Homo sapiens: one gene and its partners. The protein of the gene in region 1 interacts with the protein of each later gene in a pairwise test. Each region holds a gene or a part of one and is shown in the gene's direction. Other genes may lie near its edges.

Region 1 (8,495 bases):
CCTCCTGGGTTCAAGCAATTCTCCTGTCTCAGCCTCCCAAGTAGCTGGGATTACAGGTGCGCACCACCACGCCTGGCTAATTTTTGTATTTTTAGTAGAGATGGGGTTTCACCATGTTGGGCAAGCTGGTCTCAAAACTCCTGACCTCAGGTGATCCGCCTGCCTCAGCCTCCCAAAGCGCTGGGATTACAGGTGTGAGTCACTGCGCCCAGCCTTATTTTATTTGTTTCTCTTAATTAATACAACACTTTTGCTACACTTATTTAACCTTCTTTGGCTTTCTATAAATATTAGAAAATAATGTAACTGATTTTTTTTAAAAAGTCTAGTTCAGCTTTTTAATTAATTTTGACCACCCTCCTTTCTGTTTCAAATCGATGAGATTTCCCTGTATTTGAATATTTCTTTCTGAAAATAATTTTGTTTTCTCAGAAATATAAAGATAAAAACTAAAAAAAGCAAAAAAATACAGGCACTTAGTTACAATGTTGCTGAAGAGATCTAGATATTATTTTATATAAAATTTTTTTAGTTCTGTATAATTATGATTTATAGTTTTTAACTTTTAATTGACAGATAAAATTGTATGTATTTATTGTGTACAACATGATGTTCTGAAGTATGTATATCTTGTGGAGATGTTATTTTATTTCTTTTTTGTTATTGTTGGTTGTTTTTTTTTTTTTTTTTTTGAGACGGAGTCTTGCTCTGTCATCCAGGCTGGAGTGCAGTGGTGCGATCTCGACTCACTGCAACCTCCGCTTCCCGGGTTCAAGCAGTTCTCCTGCCTCAACCTCCTGAGTAGCTGGGATTACAGGCACCCACAACGCCTGGCTAATTTTTGTGTTTTTAGTAGAGATGGGGTTTCACCGTGTTGGCCAGGCTGATCTTGAACTCCTGACTTCAGGTGATCCGCCAGCCTCGACCTCCCAAAGTGCTAGGATTACAGGTATGAGCCACTGCACCCAGCCTATTTATTTCTTTAAACATGATTTTTAAAATTACTTTTTGTAGAGATAGAGTTGCTATGTCTGTGTTGCCCAGGCTGGTCTCAAACTCTTGGGCTCAAGCAATCTTCCTGCCTCAGCCCCCCAAAGTGCTGGGATTACAGGTGTGAGCCACTGTGCACGGCAGGAAGATGTCACTTTAGGAAGAAGCATGAATTATTTTTACCTGAAGTCTCAGTTTCCATTACATTATACCCTCACTACCACTTAACATGTATGGCAGAAGCATATAATTTAATTGACTTTTTGTATATTGCAGTTCAAAGATATATGGGGATGGAAATGCTGTTCCAAGGATTTTGAAGTTTCTCAAATCTATCGATCTTCAAGAGCCACTGCAAAAGAAATTCTGCTTTCCTCCTGTGAAGGAGAATATCTCTCAAGATATTGACCATATTCTTGAAACTCTAAGTGCCTTGGCCGTTGATCTTGGCGGGACGAACCTCCGAGTTGCAATAGTCAGCATGAAGGTAAAATAACTCCTAAACTCCTAACTTTATATCCCATATGAGCGATTGATTTTTTTTTTAAGTATATATAGTTGGAAGGTAAGACTAGAAACATACACAAGAGCTTGTAATCATTTGCTGATAGTATTGACTTGTGGATCCTTTACAATGTTTGTCTCACTATTTTACTGATCATTAACATTTCAAAGAAGTAAATTCTTTGGGAATCCAAGACGGTAGACTTGACAGTGGGAAGACCCCTTTAGGCATCAGATCGGGCTTTTGCCACCCAAAAGACCTGAAATTCTATACTTGGTAACAGCTTGGAGTGTGGAGTATGCTGATTACTATCACTGCCCAGGTGAGGGGTATCAGCAAATGGTGAAGGGAGCTGCCTCTTCTCTAGAATGTGATCAGTTGTGTGGATTTTCCATTTTGCATTTTTACAGTTCTGCTCTTTATTGAGTACAGCATACCTTCAATCTGTTAACCAAACCATCACCCAGTGTTGACAGGTGAGAGAACATTCATAAAAATAACAAACTGTTCATGTTAAAGTGATCTCTAATGACTTAGAATAAACCTACTAGAAAAATCTTGGTTTGAAATAGTGTGAGTGTATAAAGCTTCCAGAGACGATGAGAAATAGCAAAGATTTTAAATGTAAAGTTGTAGGAAATTTATTAATACCATTAGGTCAAATAAGGAAAGCAAAACAAAACATAATTTTCTCAAGAAAAGCCAAGAGGCCTCCCTTATAAATACTCTTTTAAAAACTAATAGAAGGCTGGATGCAGTGGCTTACGCCTGTAATCCCAGCACTTTGGGAAGTCCAGGTGGGCAGATCACTTAAGGTCAGGAGTTTCAGACCAGCTTGGACAACATGGTGAAACCCTGTTTCTACTAAAAATACAAAAAAAAAAAAAAAATTAGCTGGGCATGGTGGCAGGCACCTGTAATCCCAGCTACTTGGGAGGCTGAGGCAGGAGAATCGCTTGAACCCAGGAGGTGGAGATTACAGTGAGCCAAGATCGCACCACTGCACTCCAGCCTGGGCAACAGAGTGAGACTCCATCTCAAAAAACAAAACAAAAACTAATAGAAGAATAGTTTCTTAACAGAAAGATGATTTATTCCATATGAAAGGCCAACATCTTTTTCAATGGTGAAATTCTAGAGGCATTCCCATTGAAATCAAGAAGAAAAGAAAGATGTTTTGTGCAGCATTATCTCACATAATTTTGGAAGTTATGAGGGAATAAAGGAAGGAATAGCAAAAATGGAGATTATTGATAGGGTAAAACAAAAAACATTATTAATAGACAAAAAAATGCTTGGCTCCCACCCTGGACTGGTTAAATTAGAGTCTCTGGGGATGGGGGCCAGGCATCGCTCTTCGTTAAAAGCTGTCCAGGTGATTCTGATGCACAGCGAAGATTGAGAAGCACTACTCTAGATTTTTTATTCTCTTAATTTAAAAAAATTTTTTTTTAGAGACAAGGTCTTCCTATGTTTCCCAGACTGGACTCAAGGTCCTGGGCTTAAATGGTCCTCTGCCTCAGCCTCCCAAGTATAATAGCTAGGACCACAGGCACATGCCACTGTGCCCAGCTCTAGATGTATTTTTGTTTTTTGAGACTGAGTCTTGCTCTGTCGCCCAGGCTGGAGTGCAGTGGCGTGATCTCGGCTCACTGCAACCTCTGCCTCCCGGGCTCAAGTGATTTTTGTGCTTCAGCCTCCTGAGTAGATGGGACTACAGGCTTATGCCAGCATGCCTGGCTAATTTTTGTATTTTTTGTAGAGACAGTGGTTCACCATGTTGCCCAGGCTGGTCTTGAACTCCTGGGCTCAAGGGATCTGCCAGCCTCGACCTCCCAAAGTGCTGGGATTACAGGTGTGAGCGACCGTGCCTGACCTAGATTTATTTTTAATGACAATCCTAGTGACAGCTCTAACCCTATATTTGAGATATAAAAATCCACTAATAACAAAATAATATAAATGGAAAGAGAGATCTTATTCAGAACAACAACAAAAACTCCTAAGAATAACTGAAACCAGGAACGATGTAATCTATATAAAGAAAATTCTAAAACTTTACTGTAAGACATAAAGTCTTGAAAAAAATGCCCTGGATGGAAGTGCTGATTATTTTTAAGATGTCAGTGTTTTCCCAATTTGATTTATAAGATCAACATAATCTAGTAAATATTTCAATGGTATTTGTTTTACATTTAGTAAAATTATTGTAAATCACAGTGGAATTTCTCAAAGTTTAACATTAAAAGTACAAAAGTCAGTTGTGCAAAGAAAAAAGATAAAGACAAGTAATCAGGAGGGACTATCCCTGTTTGGTATTAAAACATATCAAAAAGCACAGTAATGTGTTTTATTTTTTTGAGACAGGGTTTCACTCTGTCGCCCAGACTGGAGTGCAGTGGTATGATCTCGGCTTACTGCAACCTCTGCTTCCTGGGTTCAAGCGATTCTCCAGCCTCAGCCTCTCAAGTAGCTGAGACTACAGGCGTGTGCCACCACGCCCAGCTAATTTTTGTATTTTTTATAGAGATGGGATTTCCTCTTATTGCGCAGGCTGGTCTTGAACTCCTGAGGTCAAAGTGATCTACCTGCCTCGGCCTCTCAAAGTGCTGGGATTACAGGCGTGAGCCACCACGGCCGGCCATATAATAATTTAAACAATGTGGTATTTCTGCCAGCCAGGATGGAAATTTACCCTAAGGAAATAGAGTATCCAGACCATCACTGAATTCAGTTACAGGAGATGATTAAAGCTCAGCTACTTAGTTGCCTCAGTGTTTTTTTGTTTTTGTTTTTGAGAAAGGGTCTCACTCTGTTGCCCAGGCTGGAGTGCAGTGGCGTGATCTCAGCTCACCGCAGCCTGAACTTCCCAGGCTCAAGAAATCCTCCCAGCTTAGCCTCCCAAGTAGTTGGGACTACAGGCATGTGCCAACATGCCTGGCTAATTTTTTGTAGAGAGGAGGTCTCACTGTACCTCCCAGGCTGGTTTTAAACTCCTGGGCCCAAGCGATTCTCCCGCCTTGGCCTCCCAAAGTGCCGGGATTACAGGCGTGAGCCACTATGCCCGGTCACCTCAGTAAGCAAGAAAGTTTTGTCAACCTGAAAGAGTAAACTATGGTCTTTTAATGAACTAGGCTCAAATTAGCGAACATTGAACTTAAGCTTAAGAAAGGGGCCCGGCCGGGGGCAGTGGCTCACGCCTGTAATCCCAGCACTTTGGGAGGCCGAGGCAGGCGGATTGCTTGAGGTCAGGAGTTTGAGACCAGCCTGGGCAGCATGGTGAAACCCCATCTCTACTAAAAATACAAAAATTAGCCGGGCGTGGTGGCAGGCACCTGTAATCCCAGCTACCTGGGAAGCTGAGGAAGGAGAATCGCCTGAACCTGGGAGGTGGAGGTTGCAGTGAGCTGAGATCGCGCCATAGCGCTCCAGCCTGGGCAACAGAGCGAGAGGCCATCTCAAAAAAAAAAAAAAGAGAGGGGCCCATCTTGCTGCCTGTGGAGTTGTCATTGCTTCAACAGCCCCATATTAGGACAGATTACAGGAACTACTTGAGCTTACCCCAGGGCTGGCCCAGACCAGGCAGTGGGTCCTTCCCCAAGCAGTCATCTAAGACTGCGGGGCCATCCTATAGCAGTGTCTAATTTGTCATGAAAAAGATCACAACACTCACAATATGCTGCTTAGCTAAGACCAGTAAGACGGAACTTGTTGTTTTCTCTTTTAGGGTGAAATAGTTAAGAAGTATACTCAGTTCAATCCTAAAACCTATGAAGAGAGGATTAATTTAATCCTACAGATGTGTGTGGAAGCTGCAGCAGAAGCTGTAAAACTGAACTGCAGAATTTTGGGAGTAGGTAAGATTGTAAATTATAAATCCAAGAAATGCTCATTTTAATGTACAAAATTTACTAACTTGTGATGCATGCCTGAGCATCAAGTCAGTGTCTGCCCTGTGCATAGATGGCTCTAGGTGCTGTCTGTGGGCCCCAAGCATGGGGACTTCCTGGGACACCAACAAGCATTAGGAGAGAAGCACTGACAGTTCTAGAAATCTTTAAGGTGCTATGGCTTTAATTCACAACTGTCTAATATTTCCTTGCAGTCCTTGGTAACGTTTGTCTTAGGAGATCTGGGGTGAATGAATCTGTGTTCTTAAGACAAGAAAGTCAGCATACTTTCCTGAGATTGCTCATCAGCATTATTTCCTTGTGTTTGTGGTGGAGCGCAGGCATTTCCACAGGTGGCCGTGTAAATCCTCGGGAAGGAATTGTGCTGCATTCAACCAAACTGATCCAAGAGTGGAACTCTGTGGACCTTAGGACCCCCCTTTCTGACACTTTGCATCTCCCTGTGTGGGTAGACAATGATGGCAACTGTGCTGCCCTGGCGGAAAGGAAATTTGGCCAAGGAAAGGGACTGGAAAACTTTGTTACACTTATCACAGGCACAGGTAAGAGGGGTAGGGGGAGGTTGGTTCAGGAGCTAGAATGTATATTGGAGCATGTCTTCAACATGGTCAGGTGGTTACAACTCTGCCTTAGCCTTCACTTCCTGCATGACTAGAGCCTGAAGGTGAGCCACATGTGGCCTTTTCTGAGCATGTGCCCAGCCTTAGACATGCCTGTGGCCTTCTAAATTCCAGGAACTTGTCAGAGCTATTCAAAGCTCTTATTTCCCAGAGCTTCTCATTTCCCAGCTTTTCCTCCCAGTCTTTTTGGTTAGTGTGTTGGATGCCCCAGCTGTTATCCTTTGCCCTAGACAGCACAGACTAATACATTTTACCTTGAAATGTTTTTTTTTTTTTTTTTGAGACGGAGTCTCGCTCTGTCGCCCAGGCTGGAGTGCAGTGGCGGGATCTCGGCTCACTGCAAGCTCCGCCTCCTGGGTTCACGCCATTCTCCTGCCTCAGCCTCCCAAGTAGCTGGGACTACAGGCGCCCGCCACTACGCCCGGCTAATTTTTTGTATTTTTTAGTAGAGACGGGGTTTCACCGTTTTAGCCGGGATGGTCTCGATCTCCTGACCTCGTGATCCGCCCGCCTCGGCCTCCCAAAGTGCTGGGATTACAGGCGTGAGCCACCGCGCCCGGCCGAAATGTTTTTGATAAACATCCTTCATGTAACCCCCTCAGCACTAGGATAGTTCCTAGTTAGTTAAGATGAAAGCAGGCCCTTTGAGGTGGTCCTCCAGGGAGGTGACAGGCAGGTCAAAACAAACAACCACAATTTTTTGAAAATAAGTTCGTCCTGCCCCGTCAGGTACTGGTATCCAGTACTGTTTCTGTACACCAGTACTGGGAGTGTGGACTGTTGTTCAAGGTCACCACCAAGCTGGAGAGTGGGTGATGGGACCAGGGTAGGTTACAACACCAGAAAGTTCTCTTATCAAGATTCAGCTGGTTTTGTTTTGTTTTTAGACAGGGTCTCACCATGTTGCCCAGGCTGGTCTTAAACTGCTGGGCTCGAGGGATCCTCCTGCCTTGGTCTCCCAAAGTGCTGGGATTACAGGCATGACCCACTGCACCTGGCCCTGGTTTTTGTTTTTCTTTTTTAAATTAAGCATTCCTCTGTTTGTTGCAAACTTTGGTTAGTTTCCAGAGTTCCAAAAAGGTTGATTCTGACATTTTTACCAGTTTTTTCCTCACTTTAGTGGCAGAATGGACCTTTGGAGTTCCCTGCTCTGTCATTTTTTTATGACATCCCAATTTGTTACTTTTGTTTTTTTACTCTATTTTATTTTTGTTGTATATATTTTAAGTGTATAACTTGATTTTTAAATGAGGAAACAGACTTAGCTAATAAGCGGTTAAGCCAGCATCTGATACAGATATGTCTAACTTCAAAACTTGTATGTGCTTAAACTCTACATTACACCACTATCCCTTTAAGCTCATGTACTTATTTATTTATTTATTTAAAGAGTGAGTCTCACTCTGTCACCCAGGCTGGAGTGCAGTCGCACAATCTCAGCTCACTGCCTCCCAGATTCAAGTGATTCCCCTGCCTCAGCCTCCCAAATGGCTGAGATTACAGGAATGTGCCACCACACCCGGCTAATTTCTGTATTTTTAGTAGAGACAAGGTTTCACCACGTTGGTCAGGCTGGTCTTGAACTTCTGGCTTCAGGTGATCTGCCCGCCTCAGCCTCCCAAAGTGCTGGGATTACAGGGGTGAGCCACCACACCCAGCCTAAGCTCATGTACTTTAGCTCATGCTCATCCTCTTTTAGTTCCAGACACAGTTTTAGCAAACTTGGATACCATTTCCTGGCTCAGAGCAGTGACTAAGCTGTAAATCAGAGGGCTAGGGGTTGAGGAATAAGTGCCCAAGAAGTGACAGATGGCAAGACAACCCTTAAAAGCAGAGCCTTCTCAGGCACAATACCCTTTACTCCTTTGTAACTGCTAAACGCCATAACAAAAGACAGTCACTGATATTTATAATTATTGAATCACAGATTTTTAGACATGGCAGCATCAAAAAAGGCAAAATCATTATTTCATATTTTCTGCTTCAGGAAGCAGGTAGTGTGTGATACATTTTAAAAGACTTATCTTGGGTATTCCTCAGAGCAGAGCCTGAGACAAGGATTTAGGTACAGGTATGGTTTTTTGGAGGTGACCACAAGAAGCAGGAGGGTGAGTGGGAAGAATGAAACAGAGCAGGAAGAAAGCCATTAAGGATATATTAACATTATTGAAGTTGACTTGAGGGCAAAGGGGGCTGAACTCCACTAGCACCTCCTAAGAAGCCTGCAGAACAGCATCCAGAATTGTCCTGTGGATCTGCCGGCTCCTGCCTTGCCTCGGTTGCAGGTTGCCCCTGGGTGCTGTGCCTGCGTGGCTGAGTAGGCTCTTGCTTCAGTGTTAGAGAAAGCCTTGGTGCAGAAAGATGGACAGTGTGTGCTGGGCCAGGGGGTCTGCTACCCACAAGGTGGGCATGCATTTTTGCTGCACTGTCCCCACAGCTGTGTTTGAAATCACAGTGACCCAAGCAGAT
Region 2 (10,031 bases), on another chromosome or scaffold:
GACTAGCTGCAATTGCACATTGTCCCAGAAAGGACACTGTCAGCAGTCATTGCATGCCTCAGTATCTGACAGTATGTATGAAAAGTAGCCCTCTTTAGACTTCTGGCCTTTCTCATGAATTTGGATATGCTCTACCAGACTGGGAGCTCCAGAACCCATGTTTCCTTCCTCCTCTTAATGCCTCCTTCCCTCCAAAATTAAGACAGGATTGAGCATAGAGCTAGGAAATATCAGTCACAAAATCCCCGAGTCCCCCATCTGGAAAATGTTGTCTAGTCTAAGCGATCAACTATCTTGAGGAGTCTGCCTTATAATACCCTCCAGGGAGCAGAATGAACCGAAGGGAGCACTGAACAAGAACTTTCTAATGTTAAAACCACCTAATTTGCCCATTCTTTACAAGTGCCCCTTGAAATAAAGGTCCACTTGGGCTAAAAGAAGAGATTCTGATCTCCAGATCTGAAGGTCTTTTGGTTCACCTTGTCTCCACAAAAATGGTGGCCACTGCAGAATAAGAAGTGTCTTTCTTTTACTTAAAGCCTCCCTAAATGGAAGAGATAATGCAAGCTCCTTTAGAAAGTAATGACTACTTGTCTTCTGGCAAGTTCTTCCTCAACTCCAACTTCCATTTGTCCATCTGCAATGAAAGCTTGCCTTCTCTTGCTCTCATTGGAGCACCATTATACTTGGATGAATTATCAAGTCCATATCCCCCATCCTCAACCTCATGAAATCCTCTGGCTACTGACCAATCAGGAGGTTTTAGGATCAGGCAAAAATAAAGATGAGTGAGTGTGCCATCATTTAATTTATGACTGAGGATTTCTGATGGTCTGTTAAGTCCAAATAATAAATACACACTTATGAATTATTCACAGATTACAGAATTTTTAGATTATCCAAGCCTCTCTTCTCATCCAGTAGTATGGTTACCCAAGGATTGGTGGTGTGTTCCTTTGCCAAAGAGAAGAGATTCTCTTTGGACCTTCTCTGAGGCAATCAGGCTGGAGCAGAGATTGAAGGAGGGGCATGTGTTTTGGGGTTCTTTTCGAGGACAAATGGAGTAACCATGGCCAAACTTCTCAGATCCTCTGCCCCTTGGACTGGCTCCCACTGTAGAATATAGTAGATAACATTTATTGAGCATTTTCTATGTGCCAGCTGCTGTTAAACATTGTCCATGCATTATTTCATTTAATCCTTCTACAAGTTCTTTAAGATAAGGCGGTTAATGAAAACTGGACACAGATGGCTTAGGCATGTGGATGAGTATATCCCATCAATGCTGTTGATACGTCTGCAGCAGCAGCATCAGCAGCAACAACAACAACAACTAATATGATTACACACTTAGAGTGTGCCAGGCTTAGTTCTCAGTGATTTACATGGATTAACTCTTTTAATCTTTACAACTTTATGAGGTGGGTACTATTATTATCTTCATTTTAGAAATCATGAAATGAGGTACATAGAGGCTAAGTAATTGCCTGAGTTTACACAGCTAGAGAGTGGCAGAGCTAGAATTCGAAACGAGGCAGTTTGGAATCTGAGTCTGTGTGCTTAACTAATATGCCATGTATTCAAACTTTTTATTTATTTATTTATTTATTTTAATGTTTTCTTTTTATGGGTACATAATAGTTATACATGTTTATGGGCTACATAAGATATTTTGAGATAAGCATAAACTGTGTACTGATCAAATCAGAGTACTTGGAATATCCATCACCTCAAACATTTATTATTTCTTTGTGTTGGGATCATTCCAAGCCTACTCCTTTAGTTATTTTGAAATACACAATAAATGATTAACTATAGTCATTCTATTGTGCTACTGAACACTAGATCTCATTTCTGTTATCTAACTGTATTTTTGTACTCATTAACACGTCTTTATCTTCCCCTCCCCATTACCCTTCCCAGCCTCTGGTAACCATCATTCTACTCTCTATCTGATGAGATCAATTTTTTTAGCTCTCGCATATGTGTAAGAACATCTGAAATTTGTCTTTCTGTACCTCAATTATTTTCCCTAACATAATGTCCTCCAGTTCCATCCATGTTGTTGCAAATGACAGGATTTCATTCCTTTTTATGGCTGAATAATATTCCATTGTGTATCTGTAACATACTTTCTTTATTCATCCATTGATGGACACTTAGTTTGATTCCAAATCTTGGCTATTGTGAATAGCGCTGCAATAAACGTGGGAGTGCAGACATCTCTTTGATATAAGAATTTTCTTTCTTTTGGATGTATACCTAGTAGTGGGATTGCTGGATCACCTGGTGGTTCTATTTTTAGCTTTTGGAGGACACTCCATACTGTTTTCCATAGTGGCTGTAGTAACTTACATCCCACTAGCAGTGTACAAGTGTTCCCCTTTCTCCACATCCTTGCCAGCATCCATAATTTTTTTGTCTTTTTGATAAAAGTCATTTTAATTGGGTTGAGATGATAATCTTATTGTGGTATTGATTTGTATTTCTTTGATGATATGTTGAGCATTTTCAATATACCTGTTGGTCATGTATATGTCTTCTTTTGAGAAATGTCTATTCAGATCTTTTGCCCATTTTAAAATCAGATTATTTGGTTTACTTGCTATTGAGTTGTTTGAGTTCCTTATATATTGCAGCTACGAATTCCTTGTCAGTTGAATAGTTTGCAAATATTTCTTCCATTCTGTAGGTCATTTCTTCAACTTGTTGATTGTTTCCTTTGGTGTGCAGAAGTTCTTTTAGCTCGATGTGATCCCATTTGCCCATTTTTTGCTTTGGTTGCCTTTGGTTTTGAGGTCTCAATCAAGAAATCTTTGTCCAGGTCAATGCCCTAAGCATTTCCTCAATGTTTTCTTCTAGTAGTTTCATAGTCTGAGGTCTTATATTTAAGTCTTTAATCCATTTTAATTTGGTTTTTGTATACAGTGAGAAATAGATATTTCAACTTTTCTGCTGCAACTATAATAAGAAATAATTTTACATGGTGACTGAGTATGCACATACATATACATAGGCCATACAACTGAAACAAAAAGGGCATGTAACAAGTTATTCCCATGACATAAGGTGCAATCTGCTATTTTCTGGTCTATTCTACTCTATTTGATTTTCTCATAATCAATTTCATTAAAATAAAATTCTGGTTGGTTCAATTAGTGGGTCAGAACATGAATTCTGAATAAACACTGCCCCTGAGCCCACCGCTTCCTAATGATTGTAATGAAGCCCATCTGCTCTGTGCTCTGGAGTCCACTGAGCATGTACACATTTCTGTAACTCTAAGGCAGTAGTAGGAGGGAAAGCCTTAACCTATTTCCCAGGAGAGTCAAGTGCCTTCCCCTAGATCACACAGGGGTACTCAGGGCAGAGCCTTGGTTCCTACCCAGCCTTTGTGAGTTTAAGACCCACACTATTCACACTGGATGGATGGCACATACAAATATAGATCTGTTCTCTGGCACCTGCCAAGGGTACTGACAAACTTCTGTGCAGGAGTTTCAAGGAGTATAGTGCAGAAAGCAGCAGGGACTCAGGGGATGATGGCAGGGGCTGGATGCTCTCCTCATGTGGCTCTATTTGATCTCATATTCTGAGCCAGATACTGTATAGATGCATAACAGTGGTGCTCATCCCAGACCTTCTAGGCCCTGGAGGTTACACAGAGGCCTGAGAGGACATCCAGACATTCAATCCTTGTCTAGGGCCTTGTGGGAGGTAATTGTGCTTTCCTGGGGCCAGTGGGCTAGTGTGTGCTCCTGAGGCCGCATGGGACACTCTGAGGGAGGGAATGCCTCCTCTCAGCCGAGGCTGGCCAATATGACCTAATAAGGTGGCCTGAGGACTAGTCTACATGCTAGTTGAATGTGCAGGTGAGGACCTGTGAGTGTGTGTGTGTGTGTGAGATGGTGGGTAGAAAGGCCAGCATGTGAAAGCATTGTGTGTGTGAGTGTGTATGTGAAAGAGAGAGGGGGGGTTGTGAGTAGGAAGGCCAGCATGTGAGTGCATTGTGTGTGAGTTTGTGTGTGTATGTGTGTGTGCACCAGAGAGTGGGAGAGAGAGAGAGAAAAAAACATGTTGATAGGTATAGATAAGGGATTTGGGAGTAGGTGTGGAGGAACTGGGTCCCTGAGAAGGTGACTAAGTTAGAGATTCTGTAAACGTGGGTCTTTTGGGGTGCAGAAACAGGTCATCTAGTTCGGAGAAACCACCAAGCGCCCCCCAAGTTCCACATCAAGGGATTCCCCCTCCCAACATTCCTGGCTAGTCCTATGAGCACCGCGGACAGCGGCATTGACCATGTCAAACCCCGCAGGACAGAAAGAGCAGCAGCCCCGCCCCTTCCCTTCCATTCCAACCTGAGTCACTGCCCACTCCTTCGTCCAACGTCAGTTTCCTCAACTGTGTATTGGGAGGTTGAGGTGGGTGTGCGGGACGTGAGTTGGTCCTTTGAAGAAGAAAACTGCAGTTTAGGGCAAGAGATCATAACATCTGGCTGCTTCTGGGCACCAATTAAGTACATTAAGTGGGGAGCGACAGCAGCTAAACAACCCAAGCCCATAAAGCCTTCTAATTGCTCCGACCCACGTGGTCACAGTCTCCCCACTTATATAAAAGGCCTACAGAGGTGCAAGTAGTGAACGCCTGACGCCCCGACCACTGTGCTCTCCATTCGGACGTCTCCATCCTCAGAACCTCCTCTCTTCCCCAAAAAGCACCATGACTTGTGGATCTTACTGTGGTGGCCGCGCCTTCAGCTGCATCTCGGCCTGCGGGCCCCGGCCCGGCCGCTGCTGCATCACCGCCGCCCCCTACCGTGGCATCTCCTGCTACCGCGGCCTCACCGGGGGCTTCGGCAGCCACAGCGTGTGCGGAGGCTTTCGGGCCGGCTCCTGCGGACGCAGCTTCGGCTACCGCTCCGGGGGCGTGTGCGGGCCCAGTCCCCCATGCATCACCACCGTGTCGGTCAACGAGAGCCTCCTCACGCCCCTCAACCTGGAGATCGACCCCAACGCGCAGTGCGTGAAGCAGGAGGAGAAGGAGCAGATCAAGTCCCTCAACAGCAGGTTCGCGGCCTTCATCGACAAGGTGGGTGTCCTGGATCACACCCTTCCTGAACCCCCACCACCTACACAGCCAGGGCCGGGCACTAAGGATGGAGTCAGAGGCACAAAGACCTCTGCCTGCCTGAGATCCCAGTCTGATGGGCGAGGCACACAGACACACAGACAGACAGACACATGCACAGACACACACACACAGGCACTCAAGATGCAGACTCAGCTGACAGTTCAGATAGAGGGAGCTTGTGAAGGAAAAGTGTGGCCAGGCTGCTCTGGGGCACAAGCTAGACATCAGGGAGTTGGGGGAGGGGGGCATGTGACCACTGCTGCTGAACTCAGAGGGGTTTGGGCAGCCCCAGGGTGAGAGAGTAGGGTGCACTGACTTCCAGATGACACAGGGGAAGGGCTGGGACAGCTGAGCTCCCTTCCAGATGGCCTGTGACACCCTCTTCCTGGCACCATCCCCAGAAACCTCATCTGTGATCTGAACCTGAGTACTCTGCCTGTGTGGGTTGCTGATCACCTAGTTTCATAGTGAGGGACTGAGCCTCTACTTCTGTTCATCTGCTTGGGTGGGGGGTGGGGGGGGGGTCACTCAACTCCCCAGGGAGCAGGCACTGACACCACCCAGCCCTTGCTCCACTCCTGAGTGGGAAATCTAGACACAGATCATGACCAGGAAATCCAGAAATTGTCTGTCTCCCACTGCCCACCTCTACTCAATCTCAGATAAGCTCCAGATTTGGGGGTTCCCATTAAAGCACCTCCCCTGCGAGCCCCCAGAGCTGGCTTTGGGGCACCAGACACCATCTGCCCCACCTTCCCACACCGAATGGCAGGTGCGCTTCCTGGAGCAGCAGAACAAACTGCTGGAGACAAAGCTGCAGTTCTACCAGAACCGCGAGTGTTGCCAGAGCAACCTGGAGCCCCTGTTTGAGGGCTACATCGAGACTCTGCGGCGGGAGGCCGAGTGCGTGGAGGCCGACAGCGGGAGGCTGGCCTCAGAGCTTAACCACGTGCAGGAGGTGCTGGAGGGCTACAAGAAGAAGTGAGTGCGGGCAAGAGGGATGCTGGGCACAGGAATGGGGTTTAGGTTAAATACACTGGATTAGACAATAAGAACTCCCAGGTAGGGTGAGTGGCCATGACCACTAGATTGACCGAGGGTGGCGGGGTCTTTTCCTTTGTGGAATCTTTGCCCAGACACCTGTGTAAGAGGAGGGCTGTGACTCCCATGACCTGTCTCTGTCCCACTTCAGCCTTCTCTCCCTGAACCACATCACCCAGCAGCTCTCCCCTGCGCTGGGTGGGGAGGAAGCCTCTGCAGGGTCCAGGCCTTCTCTCCTGACCCTCAGCCCCTATACTTGTAGCACCTGTCAGATGTGAGCCCAGGGTCTCTCATGAGTGACAGGTCTTGGGCTCTGGGTGTCGCACTGCCTTAGGTTCTAAGTCCTGAGGGTCTGCGGGTCCAGGAGGCCCCATACCTGAGCTGGGATTGATACCAGTGAGGGGAGGCTAGGGCTACAGGCCCTGAGAGTCCACGCTGTCCACTCCCAGGATGGGGCTGGGGGCTGAGTCCTATTTGCCTCCTGGGGGACCTCAGAGCCCCTTTGGGAACAGGACTGGGAGGTCCCAGATGAGCACTCTCCATCCCCAGTTCAAAGTGGATAGAGAATCCCAGACACATCCCACATCCAACTAGAAAGCACTAAGCTAGGCTGCCAGGCCGGGGCTGTGTGGAGGTGTTTCTAGTACTGTCCCCATGGCTGTGATGAAGTGTGATGTGATGGTGGCTCTGCAGAGACCTGCCCTGCCCTGACCTCCCCTCTCTTCCCTCTGCTCTGTCTCAGGTATGAGGAGGAGGTTTCTCTGAGAGCAACAGCTGAGAACGAGTTTGTGGCTCTGAAGAAGGCAAGTGACACAGGATTGAGAAGCACAGATCTGTGGGATCTCAGAATGACAGATTCTTCCTGGGGACACACAGGGGGTCTCAACCTCAGCGTGGGGCACAATGACCTTTCCACAGCAGGCTAGGACTGCCCAGATGCAGGCCTTTGTATTGAGCATCCAGGGCCTTGACAAAGGGCAATGACTTGGGAATATCTACCAGCACCTACCTTGGGCAAGGGGATGGCTGCACTGTCCTCTGTGTGTCCTGCTCTGTTCCAGAGGTTGTGGTCTATTGCTGAGGCCCCTGGAGCCATAGCAGATACAATGTCTCTGCTGAGAGACAGTGCAGTCTGTCTAGCATTTTGGGGAGTCTGACCTTGAGGCAGAGACACAATCCCAGGTTCTAAGGGGGGATGGAGAAGAACCAGGAGTAGCCCTTGGGCTTTTGGAGCACTGCTGGGGGACAGGAAAGGGTCAGGGTGTGAGAGCTGGGGGGTCAGTCTGGGCAGGCTTCCTGGAGCAGGAGAGGGGAGAAAGGAGAGATAAGAGGGTAAGGAGCAGTGAAAGGCTGGTGAGCCGTGCCCAAGACAAACAGGGTTTGTCCTCAGAATGGCAGAGGATGCCAGGTCACCCCGGGAAGGGCCAGAAGGGAAGGAGAGGGCATGGGAATGAGACACTGGGGACTCCTTTCCCCAGGCTTCATGGAATGGGTGGGAAGAGAGAGGAATCTAGAGGCTGGATCACCAGGGTCCTTGAGCTCCAACACTCCCCACCTTTCCAGGATGTGGACTGCGCCTACCTCCGCAAATCAGACCTGGAGGCCAATGTGGAGGCCCTGATCCAGGAGATCGACTTCCTGAGGCGGCTGTATGAGGAGGTGCGGGCTCAGGGGCCAGGCAGAGACCTGGCAGCCAGCAGAGAGGAGAGATGGGGGTGGGAGTGTTGGACAGGATGTGGGTAGAGGTTGCAGTCCCTGAGGCTGTGTGAGGGGGCAGGGTTGGGGACCAGAGAAAGCCTGAGGAGGTGGAGTCAGGACATGGTGGGTGGGGCTGTGTTCTCAACTAAAGTCACTGCCCTCACCTCCTGCAGGAGATCCGCGTTCTCCAGTCCCACATCTCAGACACCTCCGTGGTTGTCAAGCTGGACAACAGCCGGGACCTGAACATGGACTGCATCATTGCCGAGATCAAGGCACAGTACGATGACATTGTCACCCGTAGCCGGGCTGAGGCCGAGTCCTGGTACCGCAGCAAGGTGAGTGGCACAGGACACCTGCCTGCTAGACATGGCAGTGGGAGGGATTTGAGATTATCTATTAAATAGGCTTCCTTTTCTGGGGATGCACTAGGGATGAGAAGAGATGGCTGCCACTCTGATGTTGGGGTGGTAGGGCAGGACTGCCATGTGTGGTTGCACAGGCTGAGCACTGCACAACCTGCAAAATCATCTGTCATGCCCTGAATGGGTGGGAGGTCCCACCCTGAACCTCATGAGCATCTCTACTTCCCCCAGTGTGAGGAGATGAAGGCCACGGTGATCAGGCACGGGGAGACCCTGCGCCGCACCAAGGAGGAGATCAACGAGCTGAACCGCATGATCCAGAGGCTGACGGCTGAGGTGGAGAATGCCAAGTGCCAGGTATGGGGCATCTGTGCCCAAGGTCAGAGAGACCGAGGGTCTAACCATGGTCACACAGCCTATGTGTGCCCTATCTGGATCTCAGCATTCATTCTCCAGCCCCTCTGTCCATGTAGAGTCCCTGGTTGTGGTCTCTGTGAGTCCCAGGTGATGAAGGCAAGAGGCTCTGTTCTGGGGTGCTCCCAGCTTGGTGGGGAGCATGGTCTCATCGAGGTAAGCATCAGAGAGACCCAGGGACTCTAATCTACCTTGTTCTCTCTGTTCTCTTCAGAATTCCAAGCTGGAGGCTGCGGTGGCTCAGTCTGAGCAGCAGGGTGAGGCGGCCCTCAGCGATGCCCGCTGCAAGTTGGCCGAGCTGGAGGGTGCCCTGCAGAAGGCCAAGCAGGACATGGCCTGCCTGATCAGGGAGTACCAGGAGGTGATGAACTCCAAGCTGGGCCTGGACATCGAGATCGCCACCTACAGGCGCCTGCTGGAGGGCGAGGAGCAGAGGTGGGTCCCATAGACCTTTCCCTTTCCCAGCCCTGCCAGGGTTCTCAGTGTGCTCTGTCCTCACACTCCTGGCAGCATTTAAGTTTTGTTTCTTAACCTCCCCACCCTGCAACCAGACAGGTAATTTGTGTAAGTCCTTTAAGTATGATCTAGCCCCGTTTGAGTCTCTCATGTTCACCCAGGCACTGATCTGAGATTGCAGTCTTGTTCATCTCAGTTGAGATCCAGTAATCTGGCAGCAGGTATTCCTGTTACTGAGAAGCCTAATTAAGGCTTGGGGTCAGCTTGCCTGGGTAGTGCTTCTTCCCTTCCAGCTGTAGCTGCATGTGCTTCTCAGGATTCCTTCTCTTTTTCCTAGTCTGGCCCTGGCCCCATCTAGACCTGGGAGTTCAGATGTATCCCATAAGGACAGCTTCAGATAGATGACACTATCAACTCATGCTTTTCTATTATAGTGCCAATGAGCATCCCAAAGTGGTATTCCATTGTGGCAGGTGGGAATGAGTTAGGCAGAGAGCAAGGACTTATCCCTTGGGGCAGTTATGCCTTGCTTTCAGGATTTTTGCTTGTTTGCTTGCTTCAGAGGTGGGGGGAGTGGAGAAGACCCATTGGTCACTCAGCCTTCCTATGGCTGGAGGCCAGCGATACAGCTGGAGGGCAGCTATACAGCTCCTGCTCCCAGAAGGACAACACTCCCAGAATGTGAGCTCATTCTTTGCCCTTGGTTTCTTTCCCCTAGTTGGTCAGTTGGTCTCACTCGAAGCTCCTTTTTTTTTGTGGACAGTCAGGCCCTTGGCCCTGGGGAGAGGAGGGTGAAGGTTGGGGATGCAGAGGGAGCATCTTGTTTATTTGGGAAATGGGGAACACAGGTTTGGGACCTAGAAACTAAAGTGACCATATGACGAGATTTCCACCAAACTCGAGTTGTTCCATTGGAAAGCTCAGAGG
Region 3 (7,649 bases), about 100 Mb from region 1:
CCCAGGATTCCCGGAGGGGGTGCTGGCGGGCCGCGGCTCAGAGGCGCGTTTGCGTCAGCCCCGGGTTCCAGCAGAGTCACTGCCCGCCCGGGGGCAGCTCGTCCGCCGCGGGGCCTCAGTTTCCCCGTCTGCGCAATGGGGGCGGGGCGGGGCCGCCAGGTGGGGCGGGGCCGGGGGCGGGGCGGGGCGGGGCTCGGGGCCCCCACGGCGCGGGCTCGGGCGGCAGTGGCGGCGGCGCGTGCGCGCCCCGGATCCGGCGGTGAGTGCGGAGCGAGCGGGGCGCGCCGGGGTCGGGGTCCGGTCGCCGCCCGGGCTGGGTCGAGGGCGGGACCCGCGGAGCCCCCGGGGGCGGGGAACCTGGCCGCGCGCGGAGCTGGGGGCGGCTCCGGGACGAGGCAGCGCGACCGCTGGGGCCGGGGGCGGAGCGGGCCGGGGCGCCCGCGGCTGGGTCGGGCCGGGCCGGGAGAATGGGCCCAGCGGCCCCGGGAACCGGCTCCCCCTGCCGGCGGCGGGCGGGCGGGCGGCGCGGCGGGGAGGGCCGGGGTCGCCGCGGCCCCTCGTCCGACCCGGCGCGACTCAGCGCCTCGGGGCCCAGCCTGTGCCGCCTGCTCCGCCCCCCGCGAACCCCGGAGCCAGCAGCGCGGCTGGGAGGGGGCGGCGGGCAGGTCCGTCTCGCTCCGCCTCTGCGCCCTCCCTCGTGGGCCCCGCGGTCCCCAGCCCTGCTCCCGCCGCGAGGGGTCCGCCAGTGCCTGCGGCGCAGCCAGGCCCCTCCCTCTGCGGACCCGGCCTCTCGCGGGTGGGGGCTGCGGGGCTGCTGCCGGGCAGGTGGGGAGGGAGCCCGTGGGCGCTGGGGGCACGGGGACCGGACTGCTGGTCCACCTGGCGCCGCCGCCCCCTCCCCGCCCGGCACCCCTGGGTCGAGGCCGTGGCCCCCCCCGGGGAAATGGGGCTTGCAGCACCGGCTCGGAGAGCACCACGGGCTTCCTCTGGCCTCGGGAAAACATGACTTTCAAAAATTGAGTCTCCACTTAGCACCGCTTCCTGTCCAGGCGACTCTCAGGAATTGTGGGGGGGAGCTGTGCCAATATGTGTGGGGGGCAATGAGGTCTGGGAGATTCGCCTACCCCCAGGCCCGCCCTGGCATCCCCCTGCCCACATCAAGCCGCCGGGCCGCTGCCCTACCTCTTCCTTCCCGGGTCCCACTCCCCAATGTCCCCCGACTTCGAGTCTTGCCTTGAGGTCGCACCAGACCCAGCCCCTAACAGTGTCCTTCATCCAGGGCCCATCCCCAGAGTTAATCTCCAGCCAGCTCTGCCCCCTCGACAAACTCCTGCCCAAAAACTGCTGTGATGCCCCCCCTGCCCCCAAGCTAAGTCCCCACCCCTCAGCTGCCCAGGGCAGCCTCTGCCTAGTTGGCAGCCTCTGCCCTGCCCTCCTCTCTCCAGCGCACAGAGGACTGGAGGCCCAGGAAGGACCCCCAGCCACCCTCCCCGCTGGGACCGGGTGATGCCTTGGCAGTGCCCGTGGGAAGCAGGTGTGGGATCGTGCTCCACACCCAGTGGGGCTGGCCAGCAGCGACTGAGGACAGTGTGACTATTTATAGGACTGGCTGTCAGAGCTGAGGAGGGGCCTCAGAGACCCTATTCTAGTGTGTGAGGAAACTGAATCCCAGAGAAGGGACAGCCTTACCCCAGCCTCTGCCCCGACCCGAAGCCTGGCCTTTCCCTGCGGAGGGCCCTGCAGTGCCTCGGAAGGAACCCACCCAGCCTTTGGGAAGCACCCGTGAGAGGCCCTGGGTGGGACCCTGCAGCATGGCAGGGGCTCGCCAGGTCTCCAGACCCCTGGCTGCGCATAGGACAGAATCCCCATCCCCGGCATTGCCACAGACCATTAATTCTGGGCTCTCATGCTCTCAGGAAGCCTCACCCGGGCCCCTGGCTCCTGCTGCACAGCCAGGAGGGGGTTGGATTCCGGTTCCGGTGACACTGTCGGGGGCTGCTCCTCACCCCCAGGTGTGCACCTGGCACAGCCACTGTCCCAGGATCCCTGGAGGCTGATTGCACACATATCCCAGCCTGGGAAGGACCCCCTCTAAAATGAAGGCCGCCCCTCTGGTGGTCTTAGAATGTGTGCACCCTCCGCACGGTTCCTGCTGGCTTGCAGCTGCTGGCCCACCTGCTGGGGCCGGTTCCACACTCAGATGAGAAATCAAATTCCAGAAGGGCTGAGGCCGGCAGGTCCCTGGTGGGGCTGGATCCCAGCTCTGCCCACGAACACCCCGTTTGCATAGACTGGGGTGCAAACTCACCCCTGCCCTGCTGTGAGGAGGGCCCTGGAACCAGGCAGGACAGGAGAAACGGCCACCCGTAGCTGGAGCCATCCTTCCCGGAGCCTCGGGCAGATGCCCAGCAGGATCCACTCGATTCCTGCACCAAGAGCTCTGGACAGCGTCACCCCCCCTGTGCCCCCAGGCTGTGGCCCCAGCTGTTTGTGCCTGGCGAGGGTCTGGCTAGCTGGAAGAGGGGGCCAGCGGAGGAGAGAGTGGGCGCCACCGTGGGGCTGTCCCACCGGTGGAGGCTCCAGCGGAGATGAGCTGGGCAGGCCTCGCGGAGCAAGTGCAAACTGCACCCGCGTCCTGGGGGCATCTGCGGGGAGACTTAGGGGTCATGCTTTGTGCCCCAGGCCACCCAGAGGAGAAGGCCACCCCGCCTGGAGGCACAGGCCATGAGGGGCTCTCAGGAGGTGCTGCTGATGTGGCTTCTGGTGTTGGCAGTGGGCGGCACAGAGCACGCCTACCGGCCCGGGTGAGCCAAGCCCTAGCCTGGGAGTGCTGGGGTGGGGGGACCGGGAGCCCTCAGCACCTCCTAGAGGCGGCCCTCAGCACCTGTCGGGGACTCCCTGGGGGCTCCTGCTGAGGGTCCTGCCCCGGCCACATGTTCCCATCATTCTTGGGTCCTGCTCTGGGACTCCTGGGCTGACCCCCTCTCCACCCCCGCAGCCGTAGGGTGTGTGCTGTCCGGGCTCACGGGGACCCTGTCTCCGAGTCGTTCGTGCAGCGTGTGTACCAGCCCTTCCTCACCACCTGCGACGGGCACCGGGCCTGCAGCACCTACCGGTGAGTGCCCCACCACACCGAGCTCACCCAGCCCCAGCCTCCCAAGTCGGCCACACATCAGCATGTCAGGGGCGAGGCGGGGGTGAATCCTGGGACCCAAGATGGGAAACTGAGGCCAGAGCCATGAGAGGGCTGCCTGAGATGGGCGACCCAGGGCGGCCGGAGCCAAGGGGTTCCACGATCACCTCCAGTGTCCTAATCCTTGCTCTTGCCCCGACACGTCTCAAAGGACCGCACCTCTAAGAGCATCCCCATGTTTAGAGGGGTCACCCATCCTGTCTGCACCCCTCCACTTCCGGGGGACTAACCCCTCCCTACCCTGGCATCCCTGGCTGCAAGTTCCCATATACACAGAATGGTGCCTGACTCCCCTGGTCCCACTCCACTGGGCACCCCCCTCCACATGACGGCCCCCAGTGGGCACAGATGAGACCCTGAAATGTCCTGTATGCCCACACAAGGGGCACACACCCCTAAGTCTCAGAGTCCTCCTTCCTGGGTGTGGGAGCTCCACCCCCTGCTGGGGGAGGGGCCTGGGAATTCAGACTTCTGGAGGTTTAAGAAGGGCTCCGATGCCCAGGGCCCACACTCTGCCGTGACTCGCCGTAGGCCGGGCACACCCTCTCCTCTGGGCCTGGATGCCCCCACAGTAGGAGACCAGATAGGTGGGGGCACACACAGGCCTGGCCACTGCCTCTGCTCCATGCGGAGTGTGGCTGGGCCTTCCTGCTGTGGCTTGAGTCCCGGCCAGCACCGGAAGGCCCAGGCAGGGAAACGGCTGTGCAGTGACCCCTCAGTGCCATCCCTTGAGGAGAAGACCCTTGGGGGCATGCTGGGGTGACCCTGTGCACTCTGAGAGGGGACTCTAGATGCCCAGCAGGTGACTAAGGGGGAGTAGGATGCCCCTCTGAGCTGTCCCACCCACCCCACAGAACCATCTATAGGACCGCCTACCGCCGCAGCCCTGGGCTGGCCCCTGCCAGGCCTCGCTACGCGTGCTGCCCCGGCTGGAAGAGGACCAGCGGGCTTCCTGGGGCCTGTGGAGCAGGTGAGGGCTATGTCCCTCGGCGCCCGGTGTTAGGAGGGCGACTGTTCCCCAATCTTCCAGCAACGCTCCTGCTGCTTTTCTTGAACCCCGAGCAAAGCACCACCTTGCCGCAGAGCACCCACTCCCTAGCAGCTGCCCCCACAGGGTGCTGGGGACCCAACTGAGCTGGTGACCAGCCTCCCCCGCCCACAGCAATATGCCAGCCGCCATGCCGGAACGGAGGGAGCTGTGTCCAGCCTGGCCGCTGCCGCTGCCCTGCAGGATGGCGGGGTGACACTTGCCAGTCAGGTGAGGCTGGCTCTACCCTGGGGGGCCCTGGAAGGGTCCTGGGCACCTCCTTGCATGTCCTGGGGTTACTGCTGGCCCATGAGTGGGTGGTTGTGAAGGGAGCTGTGTGGGCAGGACCCCTCCCGCAGGCATGGCCGCCTGACACCCCGTTTCCTGCAGATGTGGATGAATGCAGTGCTAGGAGGGGCGGCTGTCCCCAGCGCTGCGTCAACACCGCCGGCAGTTACTGGTGCCAGTGTTGGGAGGGGCACAGCCTGTCTGCAGACGGTACACTCTGTGTGCCCAAGGGAGGGCCCCCCAGGGTGGCCCCCAACCCGACAGGTAAACAGCCCTGGCTGTGCCTGGCCTGGGGAGGCGGGCAGGCAGTGGACATTGCCGTGTGGCTGTTAGGCATGGTGGGGGGCACTGGAATCTGGGCGGAAGGCGGTGGGGACTCCCTCTCCAGGGAGGGAGGATGGGGAGGGAGGATAGGTGGGTTCCCGAGAACTGGGGGCAGGTTGCCCGGAGCCTCATATCAGCCAAGAAGGCAGAAGTGCCCCGTCCCGGGGTCCTGTCTGCATCCAGCGCAGCATTCTGGAAGACGCCACGCCTCCGCTGGCGACGGGACATTATTACTTTTGGTACGCGCTGTGACACTTCAAACTCGTACCGTGAGTAATAATGCGCCGTCCACGGCACCGCATCGAAAACGCCGCTGAGACCTCAGCCTTGACCTCCCTCAGCGTGGCCGGGACCCTGAGCCTCTGCGCAGAGCCACCCGCCCCGACGTACTTAGGCGGCATAGCCCTGAGACCTCTGGCCAGCGCCAGGCAGGCAGCGGGGGCGGCAGAGGCCTGGGCCTGAGTCTTCTGGCTCTGCCTCTCCCTGGGGACAGGAGGGAGCCTGGGGGTGTGGGTGGGGAGCCGGCCGGCCGTGACCCAGCGCCTGGCTCTGCCCGCAGGAGTGGACAGTGCAATGAAGGAAGAAGTGCAGAGGCTGCAGTCCAGGGTGGACCTGCTGGAGGAGGTGAGGCATTGGTGGGGGGGGGGGGGGGCAGGCAGTCCAGGGTGGACCTGCTGGAGGAGGTGAGGTGTGGAGGGGCAGGCAGTCCAGGGTGAACCTGCTGGAGGAGGTGAGGCATCGGGGGGGTAGGCAGGCAGTCCAGGGTGGACCTGCTGGAGGAGGTGAGGCGTCGGGGGGGCAGGCAGTCCAGGGTGGACCTGCTGGAGGAGGTGAGGCGTCGGGGGGGCAGGCAGTCCAGGGTGGACCTGCTGGAGGAGATGAGGCGTCGGGGGGGGAGGCAGGCAGTCCAGGGTGGACCTGCTGGAGGAGGTGAGACGTCGGCAGGGGGCAGGTCTTCACAACAGCAGAGGCCCAGGCCCGGGTACAGGCTCCGTAGTCTCCTGGGACATGGTCCCGACCCACGGATGGCTGGGGGTGGTCTGAAAAGGTCCTGGCCCTGGGGAGGTGGCTTCCTCGCTGCTGACTGCCGAGGGGGCCCTGGCCTGGATCCATGCTGGGCAGAAGCAGCTGGACACTGACCAGGACCCCCCAGGGCCGGAGGAACCAAGCTTGACAGCCCCCCAGACAATACACAGAGCCTGGACCCAGACGAGACCTCCCCACCCCCCCATCTTTGTCCCCACCAGGACAAAGAGCTCTTGCCAGTCTTCCCACTGGCCAGTGGTCCAGCTGTCCCCCTAGTTCTCCTGCCAGGGACCCCAAGGCTGGGACCACCCCGCCAGCCTGATGCCCCAGGCACCCACTCTGCGGCAAGCTTTTCTGCCACGGCAGCCCCCTCTAGTGGACACTTGGAGCCCTGCCGCGGAGGCGGGGGCTGGAGGCTTGTGGAGCCCTTCCCAGGGGTCCTCCCTAGACCCCGGTGGAGCAGAGAGGGCGGGGGCCGGCCCAGGGTCACTGCCCTTCTGCACCCACAGAAGCTGCAGCTGGTGCTGGCCCCACTGCACAGCCTGGCCTCGCAGGCACTGGAGCATGGGCTCCCGGACCCCGGCAGCCTCCTGGTGCACTCCTTCCAGCAGCTCGGCCGCATCGACTCCCTGAGCGAGCAGATTTCCTTCCTGGAGGAGCAGCTGGGGTCCTGTGAGTGCCCCCACCCTCCAGAGCCCTCCTCCCGGGTCTGGGCCCAGTGGGCCTAGAGGGGCTACCCAGGCTTGGGGGTCGGGGGCGACCAAAGGCCAAGGGGCCAGTCAGATCTAGCTGGGCGGGGAGGCTGTGGGGAGCAGTGATCTCTGACCTTCGCCTCATCCAACCCTAGGCTCCTGCAAGAAAGACTCGTGACTGCCCAGCGCCCCAGGCTGGACTGAGCCCCTCACGCCGCCCTGCAGCCCCCATGCCCCTGCCCAACATGCTGGGGGTCCAGAAACCACCTCGGGGTGACTGAGCGGAAGGCCAGGCAGGGCCTTCCTCCTCTTCCTCCTCCCCTTCCTCGGGAGGCTCCCCAGACCCTGGCATGGGATGGGCTGGGATCTTCTCTGTGAATCCACCCCTGGCTACCCCCACCCTGGCTACCCCAACGGCATCCCAAGGCCAGGTGGGCCCTCAGCTGAGGGAAGGTACGAGCTCCCTGCTGGAGCCTGGGACCCATGGCACAGGCCAGGCAGCCCGGAGGCTGGGTGGGGCCTCAGTGGGGGCTGCTGCCTGACCCCCAGCACAATAAAAATGAAACGTGAGCTGCTGTGTCAGTGGATGGACTGGGGGCCTGGGAGGAGGGCGCTCACCTCCTGGCCACCCCTCCCAGACCCACTGCTGGGTGCCAGCTGGCAAAGGGGGCCTGGTGGAGCGGGCAGTCGTGGGGTGGGGAGGGGGTCCAAGGCAGAGGGGGTGGGCAGGTGGTTTCTGTGAGGCCACAGAGAGCTTTGTCCTGGGGACATGTTGGCCCCAACCAGAGGCCAAAGAGCAAATCTCTGGCCTCCTTCCCAGTAGCCTGAGGATCCCGGCACACTTGCCCGTTAGGCGACACCCCCACCCATCGATGGAAGTAGTATAGGGTGATGTGGGTCCACTCCTGGATAGGGAACACGGGTGGGTGGCGGTGCCTGCACCCTGGGCCTCTAGGCAGGGCAGCTGGGAAGACACAGCGTCGCCTCCACCGCCCTGGTCACCTGCCCGCCCTGTGAGTGACCACAGCTCCCCAGCCACTTCCAAGAGTGTGTTTATAAAAAAACAGCAACGGAGTACAGTGCTGACCCCACAGAGTCT

What was found.
Region 2: the proteins of GNE (region 1) and KRT86 interact in binary tests that used the Homo sapiens proteins (3 or more experiments, as listed by UniProt).
Region 3: the proteins of GNE (region 1) and EGFL7 interact in binary tests that used the Homo sapiens proteins (3 or more experiments, as listed by UniProt).

Annotation. Positions count from the first base shown.
Region 1 is NC_000009.12:36,220,230-36,228,724, reverse strand, and holds part of GNE (bifunctional UDP-N-acetylglucosamine 2-epimerase/N-acetylmannosamine kinase), read left to right. Parts: intron 1-1,266; coding exon 1,267-1,477; intron 1,478-5,222; coding exon 5,223-5,352; intron 5,353-5,726; coding exon 5,727-5,948; intron 5,949-8,495. UniProt on the Homo sapiens protein: Bifunctional enzyme that possesses both UDP-N-acetylglucosamine 2-epimerase and N-acetylmannosamine kinase activities, and serves as the initiator of the biosynthetic pathway leading to the production of N-acetylneuraminic acid (NeuAc), a critical precursor in the synthesis of sialic acids.
Region 2 is NC_000012.12:52,297,198-52,307,228, forward strand, and holds part of KRT86 (keratin, type II cuticular Hb6), read left to right. Parts: intron 1-4,617; coding exon of another isoform or gene 4,618-4,719; coding exon 4,720-5,088; intron 5,089-5,902; coding exon 5,903-6,111; intron 6,112-6,913; coding exon 6,914-6,974; intron 6,975-7,734; coding exon 7,735-7,830; intron 7,831-8,042; coding exon 8,043-8,207; intron 8,208-8,465; coding exon 8,466-8,591; intron 8,592-8,862; coding exon 8,863-9,083; intron 9,084-10,031.
Region 3 is NC_000009.12:136,665,559-136,673,207, forward strand, and holds the end of EGFL7 (epidermal growth factor-like protein 7 precursor), read left to right. Parts: intron 1-209; exon of another isoform or gene 210-259; intron 260-2,682; 5' UTR 2,683-2,724; coding exon 2,725-2,804; intron 2,805-2,998; coding exon 2,999-3,115; intron 3,116-4,047; coding exon 4,048-4,163; intron 4,164-4,355; coding exon 4,356-4,451; intron 4,452-4,610; coding exon 4,611-4,772; intron 4,773-5,043; exon of another isoform or gene 5,044-5,128; intron 5,129-5,391; coding exon 5,392-5,456; intron 5,457-6,367; coding exon 6,368-6,530; intron 6,531-6,705; coding exon 6,706-6,728; 3' UTR 6,729-7,120; downstream 7,121-7,649. UniProt on the Homo sapiens protein: Regulates vascular tubulogenesis in vivo. Inhibits platelet-derived growth factor (PDGF)-BB-induced smooth muscle cell migration and promotes endothelial cell adhesion to the extracellular matrix and angiogenesis.